Regions from separate parts of the Homo sapiens genome. Here region 1 is linked to region 2. Evidence: fine-mapped expression QTL. A gene starts in region 2. The other region holds a variant in brackets. All regions are shown on one strand. Distances are from middle to middle.

Region 1 (5,393 bases), 11 kb after region 2:
CACTAGGTAAGAATTCTAAAACCCAGCTCTGCTGTTTATCAGAGATATATTATAGTAATTGAGAAGATCTTTTAAGCCATACCAAACCAAGGTTTATTTCTCTGTGGAATGCAAGAGCCTAACTCACTGCCTTGCCCACCTCACAGGTGTTAGAACCAACAGAAATACTGTATTAGAGACCCACTTTGTAAACTCCACAAGGGTAGGTGACTGTTATGATTGCACAGTTGAGTTTCTCTGATCCTTAAACATTGATAAACTGAGTTTCTTCCCAGTCCTGCCTGACCGAGTAGGAAATATGAATCTATTTTCTGTTTCCGTGAGCTGGGCTGGGCTTTCTCCTTATCCTCATAATTCTTCAGAAACAGAACTTGTTAATTCTCTACTGGAAATCAGGCTAAGAGCAAACACCCAGGCCGGGCCTTTTTGGTCAACATTTGGTTAAGCTAACACTTTCTATAATCTTCCATCATTTCTCTTTCTGTTGCAAGCACAGTGTAATTCAATTTAAAGATAGAGTCCTGTAGGACATAGATCAGGGGATCTATGGACCTTCTGACATATTTTAAGAAATGAAACAGTTGAAATTAAAGTCATTTCATTTTCAATAACATAAGCACAAATAATTGTGTTTTCATCCTAAAGGTTAGTCTCCTGTATTGGGCGTTCAGCATGGATGTTGCCTTTTTCTGACCTCAAGACAACTATCCAACTTTCCCTGTGTCCTTCACGATGCAACCACTAAAGCTCTACTGAAGTCTCTAATTCTGAGAAGGCACCTTAAAAATGTAAGTTGCTGTCCTGACTTCTCTTTTCAGTGTTGTCACTAACTTCCTTGACACTCCCACCCTTCTCCTGTTTTCCATTGATGTTCTTACTTTTATCACATAGCATTCTAGCATGGGAAGATATCCCATGGTAAAAAAGAATATTTCACAAGCGTATAATTATCTTATTGAATGCCAAGAAGTAATAGTAAGAACACTGTGTGTTTGAAAAGCATATCTGAATTGCTTTTACTTTAATTTTCTCCCTCATAGAATGCAGGCCAGGCCTGTATGGACCAAACTGTGCTCTCCAGTGTCAGTGTGGTTACATAGCTCACTGCAGCCCTCTCAATGGGAGCTGCACCTGCCTTTTTAAGACAGTGGACCCAACCTGTGAGGAAAGTGGTTCAGATGATCCTCAATATCCAAATACTAACAGCTTTTCAATTGGTGAATAGAATTTTGCAGACTTTCATCCACGGTTTATCATTTTAACTTTGACAGAGAAATGTACTTACTCAGCCATCTTCAGCCCATCCCGACCTGTTGTGGGGTAAATAACAGGATGTCTCAACTTTGTCATCTCCAAGCACAAGTCTCATTCTCTAGCCTAGCCTTCCCAGTGGTTTTTTTGCTGAAGAATATAGCCAATAATAAGAGAATGTTATTTCAGGATCCCAATCTTAGTAATGTTTGGACTAATAAGTGGACCTTTTTTATATGCACAGAAGGTATTTAAATTTGGATGGAAGAACTGCTTTTCAGTTCAGGTTGGACTACACTGAAATATTCACACCTATTCACTGAAGACTTCAGTGGCCATGAAATAGCTGGATCCTCTTTAGAAATATCTAGAATTTCATCTATTTATTCTCAGTATCCTTCTTCATAACAAACTCTGCTCTGGATTGCTAATGTATTGTTTTTCAAACATGACTTTGGTGTGGGAGACTATAAAGACTTTAGCCACCTAATGACGTGCACTTTCATAGTGAAACATCAAAATGTTTAGTGTGTTTTCTCCGTCACTGGCCAGCAGAAAGGAAAAAACTGGGTAGCAGTGACCGAGGCCAGGGCTTAGCCTACTCTGGGGGACACAAATTTCCTATAAATCAGGACCTACTTGTAATCAGTCTTTTAATTCACAGTGGTAATCTTGATTCAAATTGTTCATCATTTAGGACAACTATATAGCCATTTATGAACCTAAGATGAGTACTGTGATAAGCCAAGAAAGATACAGCAATAAATACTATTTTATTTTTGCTCTCAAGTAGTTTATAAGCACTTAAATTTTTCAGACCACTGGTTAATTCACATCAGCAAACAAAACTTTCTTGATTGGAAATGTTGTTTCTCATGTTACCCATGCTTTATTGGGATAAAAATAGAGAATATTACAATTATATGACTGAATATTTGATTTATACAAGATGTATGAGTGGCTTTTAAATCAAAACAGATTTAGGATAGAATTGACTGAAGGATTTATAAAAATACTTTTATCAATTCAGTACAGTTTCTCATCTTAATGATTATCTTTCTAAATCTCAGCACTTTTAACAGAGCAGAGATATAGCTACCTATAATGACCAGCCATGTCAAGCTTAATGTTATTAAATGATATAAGGGAGTTAATGAGATCACTTTCCAAAAAATGTTGTACTTTTTATTTTATTTTTTATTTATTTTATTTTATTTTTTTTTTTTGAGACGGAAGCTCACTCTGTCGCCCAGGCTGGAGTGCAGTGGCGGGATCTCGGGATCTCGGCTCACTGCGAGCTCCGCCTCCCCGGTTAACGCCATTCTCCTGCCTCAGCCTCCCAAGTAGCTGGGACTACAGGCACGTGCCACCATGTTCGCCTAATTTTTTGTATTTTTAGTAGAGATGGGGTTTCACCTTGTTAGCCAGGATGGGCTCAGTCTCCTGACCTCGTGATCCACCCGCCTCGGCCTCCCAAAGTGCTGGGATTACAGGTGTGAGCCACCGCGCCCGGCGTATACTTTTTATTTTCTTAGGGATAGAGTCTCCCTTTGTTGCCCAGACTTGGGTGCAGTGGCATGATCCTAGCTCACTGCAACCTCAGACTCTTGGGCACAAGGAATCCTCCCACCTCAGCCCCCTCAAGTAGCTGGAACTACAGACATGCACTACCATGCCCATCTGATTTTAAAAAATTTGTAGAAACGAAGGTCTCACTATGTCACCCAGGCTGGCCTTGAACTCCAGGCCTCAAATTATCCTCCTGCCTCAACCTTCCAAAGCACTGAGATTACACATGTGAGCCACCACTCCTGGCTTCTCCAAGAGATTATTAATTTAGTTTAGTCTTAAATGAGATAAAATAAATTACCTTTTTTCTCCAGTATTTGGAATTAAAGATTTACATTTCAGTGCATTTTAACCATTTAAATCAGTCATTAATAATCTGTTATTTCAAATCAGCTGAAAACTATTCTTTATTCTGAACGTTTGCCCATTTTCTTTACCTGCTATTGTTGTAGTTTCTCTCAACTATCACCATCTAACCTTCAAAGAGAATAAAGTAAATAAAAGCAGCATTCTCTCTTGGGCTGCCAGCCCCCTCTGGATTTTCTTTATTTCATGACTGTTAAAAAATTATGGCTACAAACAGGGAAAAG[A/G]GAAAGAAATCAGGCTTTTCTTCCTCAGTAGAGACCGTATTTCTATTCAGGCAGATGAGAAAAATCTAGATTTGATAGGAATAAAAATAAGGGATTTATTTTGACTATTCTTTTTGATTTTATATTACTTAACTTTTTATAAGTGAGAAACCATATGTAAAATGTTAAACAAGTTTCTTGGCAAATGGCAGATGTTTCATATATTATCTCCTTTCATCCCCTTTCCACCCAACACTAAAACAAATTGTAGGACCGGGAAAGCAAAGTCAGAGCATGAACCTGTATTTGTGCCATCCCAGGACCCTTTAGACAAATTGAATTTTCATTCTTATACCAGTCAGCATGAACAAGTGCAATTTACTGTAGCCCCTTTTCTGTATAAAAATTTTTATAAGTTGTCTTTCATATTAAAAAATAAAAATGAGAAAATGTTTAAAATCTAGAATATTTCCATTGTACTTTTGGTTATCTTGAAAAATCTTGATAAGCAATGCAGAGTGATCTCTCCTAAAAATACCTCAGTTCTGCTTAAGAACACTAGCAGATATCCTGAATATTATTATATGCAATATTTCATGCATAAACCAACATATAATAAACATTAATCTTAATTCTACAGCTGGAAAATTATGAAATATAGTTTCCTTGAAAATTTATATAATAGAATTTAAAATTTTATTTTTTGTAACTGCCACATTGAAACTGCTTCAAATTAAGAAAACAGTGTACAAAGACCTCACCTTTTTTAAACAAATAAATAAAGGTTGCTGTTCACTTTGGCAGTACATAAGCATTTACCTGAGGTTTTTACATGTAAACCACTATTCAGGTACAGTGAAGTATGATTTGGCTGCCGAGAAATAATTTGCACAAAATGTTAAAGAATCCAACTATTAAGTGAAGTATAATCTAATAGGCATGTCCTCTTTAAGCTAAAGTTTAATGTAAAATTGGAATCCTTGTCATTGGATACAAATATTTTATATATTACTCCTCTACTTTTTCTCCCTGTTTAATCTGTCCTTTAAATGTAAAAATGCTGATCTCCAAAGGAAATGTATCCACTCATAATATTTAACCGATCTAGAAAGGCGCATGTGCTATGATGTTTTAGCCTCTTTCATTTGAAATACAAGATCAGAGTGGGGATTATTATGCTTTTCTGCAATAATATAGCTCAAGTTTAAAGAAAAGTGAGCAGATGTGTGGAAGTATGCTGGCTAATTTGGAGTCTCAATTCAACATGCCTGGGATAAACTATTTCACTATGACACCTAACTTTCCCCTACTCTTTCTAACTTCTACATTCGTTTATTGAGTTTTCCAGATGAGACAGCTACTTGACACAGGTTAAATTACTTTCAGAGAACTTGGAAATCATTCCAAGAGTTAGTGGCAAGAATGGCATTTCCTTTGTTAGAAATAGCAAAGAGGGTTTGGCCTCTCCTGGGCCTCTTTCACCTTGGTTTCTCTAGGACCTGGTAATACAGATGTAGCAAGAATTTAAAAGAGCATTTGATGAAGTGAACAAATAATAGCAACTGTCTACACTCTAGGAGTTATGTATGCAATTCAGTTGAAATAACTTTTCTTAGGTCTGTAATAGAAAAAAAACAAAAAAGTAGCTGAGCTTTTAAAATAGATTTAAAAGACATTCCAAAGCTTTGTCTCTTTTAGCTAATTATGTGAAGACTATTTTCCACTTTTCCTGCTTATATTTTACTTTTTCTAAATAAAAAAACTTAAATATAAATAAAGTCTAAGATATGCATTTAAAAGTGATAGATGCCTCTTTTATGTTCTTCCAAATATTTACAGAGTTTTATCTCTAAATCTTATATCAGGATTACATGAAACACCATTTAATAATTCTTCATTTTAATGTTTGTGTGCTAACAGCTCTAATTTTGAAGAATATTAATTCAAATAACATATATTAACAAATTAGGTGTTTTTCTTCCAACAGAAGTCTTAAAATATATA
Region 2 (5,393 bases):
AAATTGGAAAATCTCTTTGTAGGGAAATTTGATAGTGTTCATTACTACTTAAAAAGCACATATTTTATTTGAAGAATTTACTCTATAGGTACTATATTGTGATATTATACTATATTATCATATCATAAGAATGAAGACTTACATAATGATGTTCATTACAGCATTGTTTGTAGTAGCAAATTATTTTAAACAATCTGGAGTGCCAAAATAAATTTTGCAAAGCACAATAAATTCCTATGTAGCTGTTAAAAAAGAATGAGGCATATATGTACTAATGTAGTAATTTGGAAAAATTATTTAAATACTTTGTGTACTAATTTATGTACTATACTAATTTTATATACATGTACTAATTTAGTACATTGTTAATCTATATTTACTAATTTGGAAAAATCTTGGGAAATTTTATGTAAAAGAAAGCAACATTTACAATATTATTTATTATATATAATGTATTATATAATATATTATATATCATATATTATATATTTTATATATATATATAGACACACTCACACATACACACATATTAACCTTTGGGTAGAAAAGCATTAAGGGATACAGGAGATAGACATATTATGCTTTACTAGCCATAGGCTATTTCTGGATATATCCAGCCATTTATCCACTTAATTCAAAAAATATTTATTGAATGACAATGCCTGTTTTAAGCATATAAAGTGTATGGTTAAAATACAGACTATACAAGTGCTCATGCAACTTGCTTTCTAGTGAGAGAGATAATAATAAATATAAATAATAAGGGAATTAATAAATTTATATATGTTATTTATACCCCTCTAACATATATATATTCTTATCCTTACAGGCTGCTTAAGTCTGAGCGAGACTTGAGACTCTGAGCTTCAATGTTCTTAAGAGTAACGTGTGTGTGTGTGTGTGTGTGTGTGTGTGTGTGTGTACTCTAGAGGGAGTAAAATCTGTGGTAAGAGAAAAAAGAGCATGAAATAAGGCTGGAGAGCGCAGGGTGTGTTGAAAATTTAGAGTACTCAAGGTAAGTCTTATTGAAAGAAGTGAAGCCTGTGATACAGAAAATAGCTGGTAATTATGACGTTTTTGATGATGTTTTTAAGAAAAGAACTGAGAATACTGGAACACAGGAATGGAATATTTTCATAATATATTTTTGTATATTGTTTGAAATAATTAACATGTGATTACATAAAGTTTAAAAAGGCCATAAAGTCATTTACACAATTCTGTGTCAATATTGTCATAAGACCTAGACCTGTAGAAGTAAATATTTCTGAGTTTTTCTTACTTTTTCAATTATGCTTTTTTTCCCCAATTATGTTTTAAATCTTATCTTGGCTTAGTAGAAGTCCTGTATTTTCACAGATTCATTGATTTCATCAATCCATTTCAACATATAGGCTGGTAGATGAATGGGTCTCCTGGCTGATGAGGACAGGGTTGTTTTAGGAGCGTAGAAGGAAAACAGGCAAAAGTTTATTTTAATAACACCTGATATTGATTCTGCTTAATTTGCCCTATATGCAAAAGGTAAAATGGATTTAATTAAAGGTAGTCTATTGCACGTATAATGATGATTCAACCATTAATTGTACAACTATAACTGTTATTTAAGTAACAAAATCAAAAAATTTTTTTCATTTGGTACTGGAATTCAGTGCAGCTAGTTGCTCAAATAAAAGCAATAAAGAAAGTATCATGCAGATTGAATTCATGTACCTGTTCTGCTATGTATTAACCAATGCCTTTGGGCAAGTTAAAAAAAAAAAGTCTCTCTAACTCTTTTTTTCCTACTTGCTGGAATATAAAAATTTCTCTAATGTTTATTCTGCTAGCTGGAATTTTAAAAATTACTCTAGTTTGCTTCTGCTAGTTGGAATAGAAATAATTTGATTGGAAGTCAGATAGTCTAGATTTGACTCTTAGTTCTTATCCTTATAGGCTGTTTAAGTTTGAGCAAGACTTTAGACTCAGAGCTTCAATTTTCTCAAGAGTAAAATAAGAATACTGCTACCCACATCACAGGAGTATTTTTTAGTATTAAATGAGATAATCCATGTGGAAAATATTATTATGTAAAAATACTATAAACTTCAGGTCATAAATGGCAGGCTGTTGGCCAAATGTAGCCACAAATATGTTTGAATTGGCTGTCATAGTTTTGGCTTTTAGCAGCGCTGTAAAACAATTTTAATTAGTGGTCAACTTTCAAAGATTTGTTAATTTCACATAAAATATGAACTTTTGAGTTTTCCTTAAAAAGTCATATTAGCTGGCAGTATTGGGTTTGCGTTCTTCATAGCAAAAGCAACAAAATGCAAGTCTGATTCTCACCTTGGAGGGGCTTTGCACTCCCATCGGTTGCACTTCTCATCATTCAATTATCTTTTCCGTGACACTGAAGAAAGAGAGGCTCCGTTTTCCTTGTCTGGTTAGTTTCGTTCACTTGTGTCCTTTTTTTTTTTTTTTTTTTTTTTTTTGAGACGGAGTCTCTCTCTGTCGACAGGCTGGAGTGCAGTGGTACCATCATGGCTCACTGCAACCTCCGCCTCCCGGGTTCAAGTGATTCTCCTGCCTCAGCTTCCGGATTCTCCTGCCTCAGCCTCTGGATTCTCCTGCCTCAGCCTCTGGAATAGCTGGTACTACAGGCGCCCGCCACCATGCCCAACTAATTTTTGTATTTTTAGTAGAGATGGGGTTTCACCATGTTGGCCAGGATGGTCTTGATCTCTTGACCTTGTGATCCACCTGTCCTGGCCTCCCAAAGTGCTGGGATTACAGGCATGAGCCACCACCCCCAGGCCACTTGTGTCTTAATTCCTCTTGATAGTGCATTTTAGTTTGTGTCACCCACCTCTGTAAGTTGAAATACTTTTACCATTTCAGTAACTTGAAAACAAACTGCTCATTTTTCTTCTTTATCAGTTATGAAACTAAATATATAAAATCTTATCCCTAGTCATCCAGGATTGACTGCTCCTTCTTCACAAGGGTCTCTGCAGGTCCCAGTATACCAAACACACAGTATTAATCAATATTCATGGAGTGAATGAAAAAAATGAATGAATGAAAGTGATATATTTGCTACCTTACAGATAACATGTGAGTAGTTCTTTGTTTTAATTTTAACATTTATTAAGCTTTTGCTATCTAGATACAGTTACTGTATCTGAAGTAGAGAAAAATGTTGTTTTTCCGGCTGAGCACCATGGCTTACGCCTGTAATCCCAGCACTTTGGGAGGTCAAGGTGGGTGGATCACCTGAGGTCAGGAGTTTGAGACCAGCCTGACCAACAAGGTGAAACACTGTCTCTACTAAGAATACAAAAATTAGCCAGGTGTGGTGGCATGCACCTGTAGTACCAGCTACTCAGGAGGCTGAGGCAGGAGAATTGCTTGAACCTGGGAGGCAGAGGTTGCAGTGAGCCAAGATCATACCACTGCATTCCAGCCTAGGTGACAGAGCAAGACTCCTTTAAAAAAAAAAAGAGAAAGAGAGAAAGAACGGAAGGAAGGAAGGAAGAAAGAAAGGAAGAGAAAAGTGTTGTGTTATTTTATTTTTACAAAATTTTATTACAGGTTGTCCCCAGATAAGACATGGCCTCAATTATCAGCTAAAATGTACTTGTAAAAATGGTGGCCTTTGCAATTCTGCAGATAGAAGGTCTATCTGTGGCCTTGGGTGGACAGGAAATTATTGTGAAAAAAGCAAGTTGATTCACTGCCTTTTTTCCCTCAATAAAGATCTACTTTAGGCCGGACGCAGTGGCTCACACCTGTAATCCCAGCACTTTGGAAGATTGAGGTGGGCAGATCATGAGGTCAAGAGATCGAGACCAACCTGGCCAATATGGTGAAACCTCGTCTCTACTAAAAATACAAAAATTAGCTGGGCATGGTGGCGGGCGCCTGTAGTCCCAGCTATTCTGGAGGCTGAGGCAGGAGAATTGCTTGAACCCTGGAGGCGGAGGTTGCCGTGAGCTAACATTGCGCCCCTACACTCCAGCCTGCCAACAGAGCAAGACTCCGTCTCAAAAATAAAAAAAGGATCTACTTTTGAGAATACTGTCATTGGTTGATAAAATACAGCAGAAACTTGTGAAGAAGCTATTTTCCAGTAAGCTAATTCAAGTTGTTTAGAACTATAATTGAATATCCAATAAAATTGTTATGTAAATATGATTGATATTGTTACTGAAATATCACATGAAAACTCCTAAACTCCTTAAGTAATTGAAATAGTATTAATGTGAAAGAGCTCCTCTGAGACCTAAACTTAACTCCCCTACCAGCCACTTTTTAAGCCTAAAGAAAGGCTTTGTGGACACCAAATCTACTAAGTCTTGAGTTTCTAGGCATGAAGCTGAAGAATCTCCACCACCTCTGAGGCTTTCAGGCAGGCAAGGCGGAGGATACAGGGCTCTGGGAGAAGCCAGATCACATGAATAAGAATAGGCACAGCTGCAAAGAGGGAAGAGGACCACCCAAAAGTCTCCAAAATTTGTTTCATCAGGAAAAATTTAATCAGTACAGTAGTCCCCCTTTGCCTGTGGTTTACCTGCGGTACAGTACAGTAAGATTTTTGTAAGATTGGCAGAACTCTAAGTACATTGATGTAATTTTTTTATTAGTTACTGTGAATGCCTTATTATGCCTAACTTATGAATTAAACTTTATTATTGTTATGCATGTATAGTGGAAAACGTAGTGTATATAGGGTTCAATGCTATCTGAGCTTTCAGACATCCACTGGGAGTCTTGGAATGTATTCTCCATGGATGGGGGGCCTGCTATACCACTATACATGCATTTTTATTTATAAATGACATTCTTGCACGTCTTGACTAATAAGTATATTATAAAATGTAGATAAATGCTTAAATTGATAAACATGGATAAAATGAATATTGATAGTTGTTCTAATGTTTGTTTTCCTGAACCACAATTTGTTATTTTGTACAACACTGGAAAGCACCAACTTTATTTAGAGCGCACTATTGTAGGAGACATTGTATTTTGGCAGATTACAGAGCAAAGGTTCTGGCAAAGTGTGGATGAGAACATTGTGCTGGAGGCCTAAACTTGAGGCACTCAGAGCAGAAAAAAATTCACAATGTACGTTTACCCAGATGGTTTCAACTGCGGGTGGTGTGACTCTTCCGACTTAGTGAAAATGAGTGTGATTATCTACTCTCCGTCACTACTCGTTCAACTGTCATGAAATTCAACAACATGTTATAGAAGAAACCACATTGCAATGGGCATGGATAAACATGAATGCTAACCCTAGCTCTGCTAATACCATGTGGTCTATCTTTGGGCAGTTCACATCCTCTTTCTGATTTAATTTTCCCATCTGAAAATGAGGGTATTGAGCTGAATAATACCTGACAGTCCTT

Evidence for each region. PIP is the estimated chance that this variant, and not a neighbour inherited with it, causes the effect.
Region 1: its variant is the best candidate, but not a certain one, in a credible set for the expression of LINC02082 in caudate (GTEx, PIP 0.74).

What each region holds. Positions count from the first base shown.
Region 1 is chr3:168,910,027-168,915,419 of GRCh38, forward strand. It overlaps LINC02082 (long intergenic non-protein coding RNA 2082), which reads left to right. Exons shown (of 5, transcript NR_109989.1): 4 at 646-788. Among named protein-coding and RNA genes, the nearest start is that of LINC02082, 11 kb to the left of the region's middle. The variant A/G (reference allele first, on the strand shown) is at 3,411.
Region 2 is chr3:168,899,430-168,904,822 of GRCh38, forward strand. LINC02082 (long intergenic non-protein coding RNA 2082) reads left to right here and starts at 2,516. Exons shown (of 5, transcript NR_109989.1): 1 at 2,516-2,550; 2 at 3,937-4,111.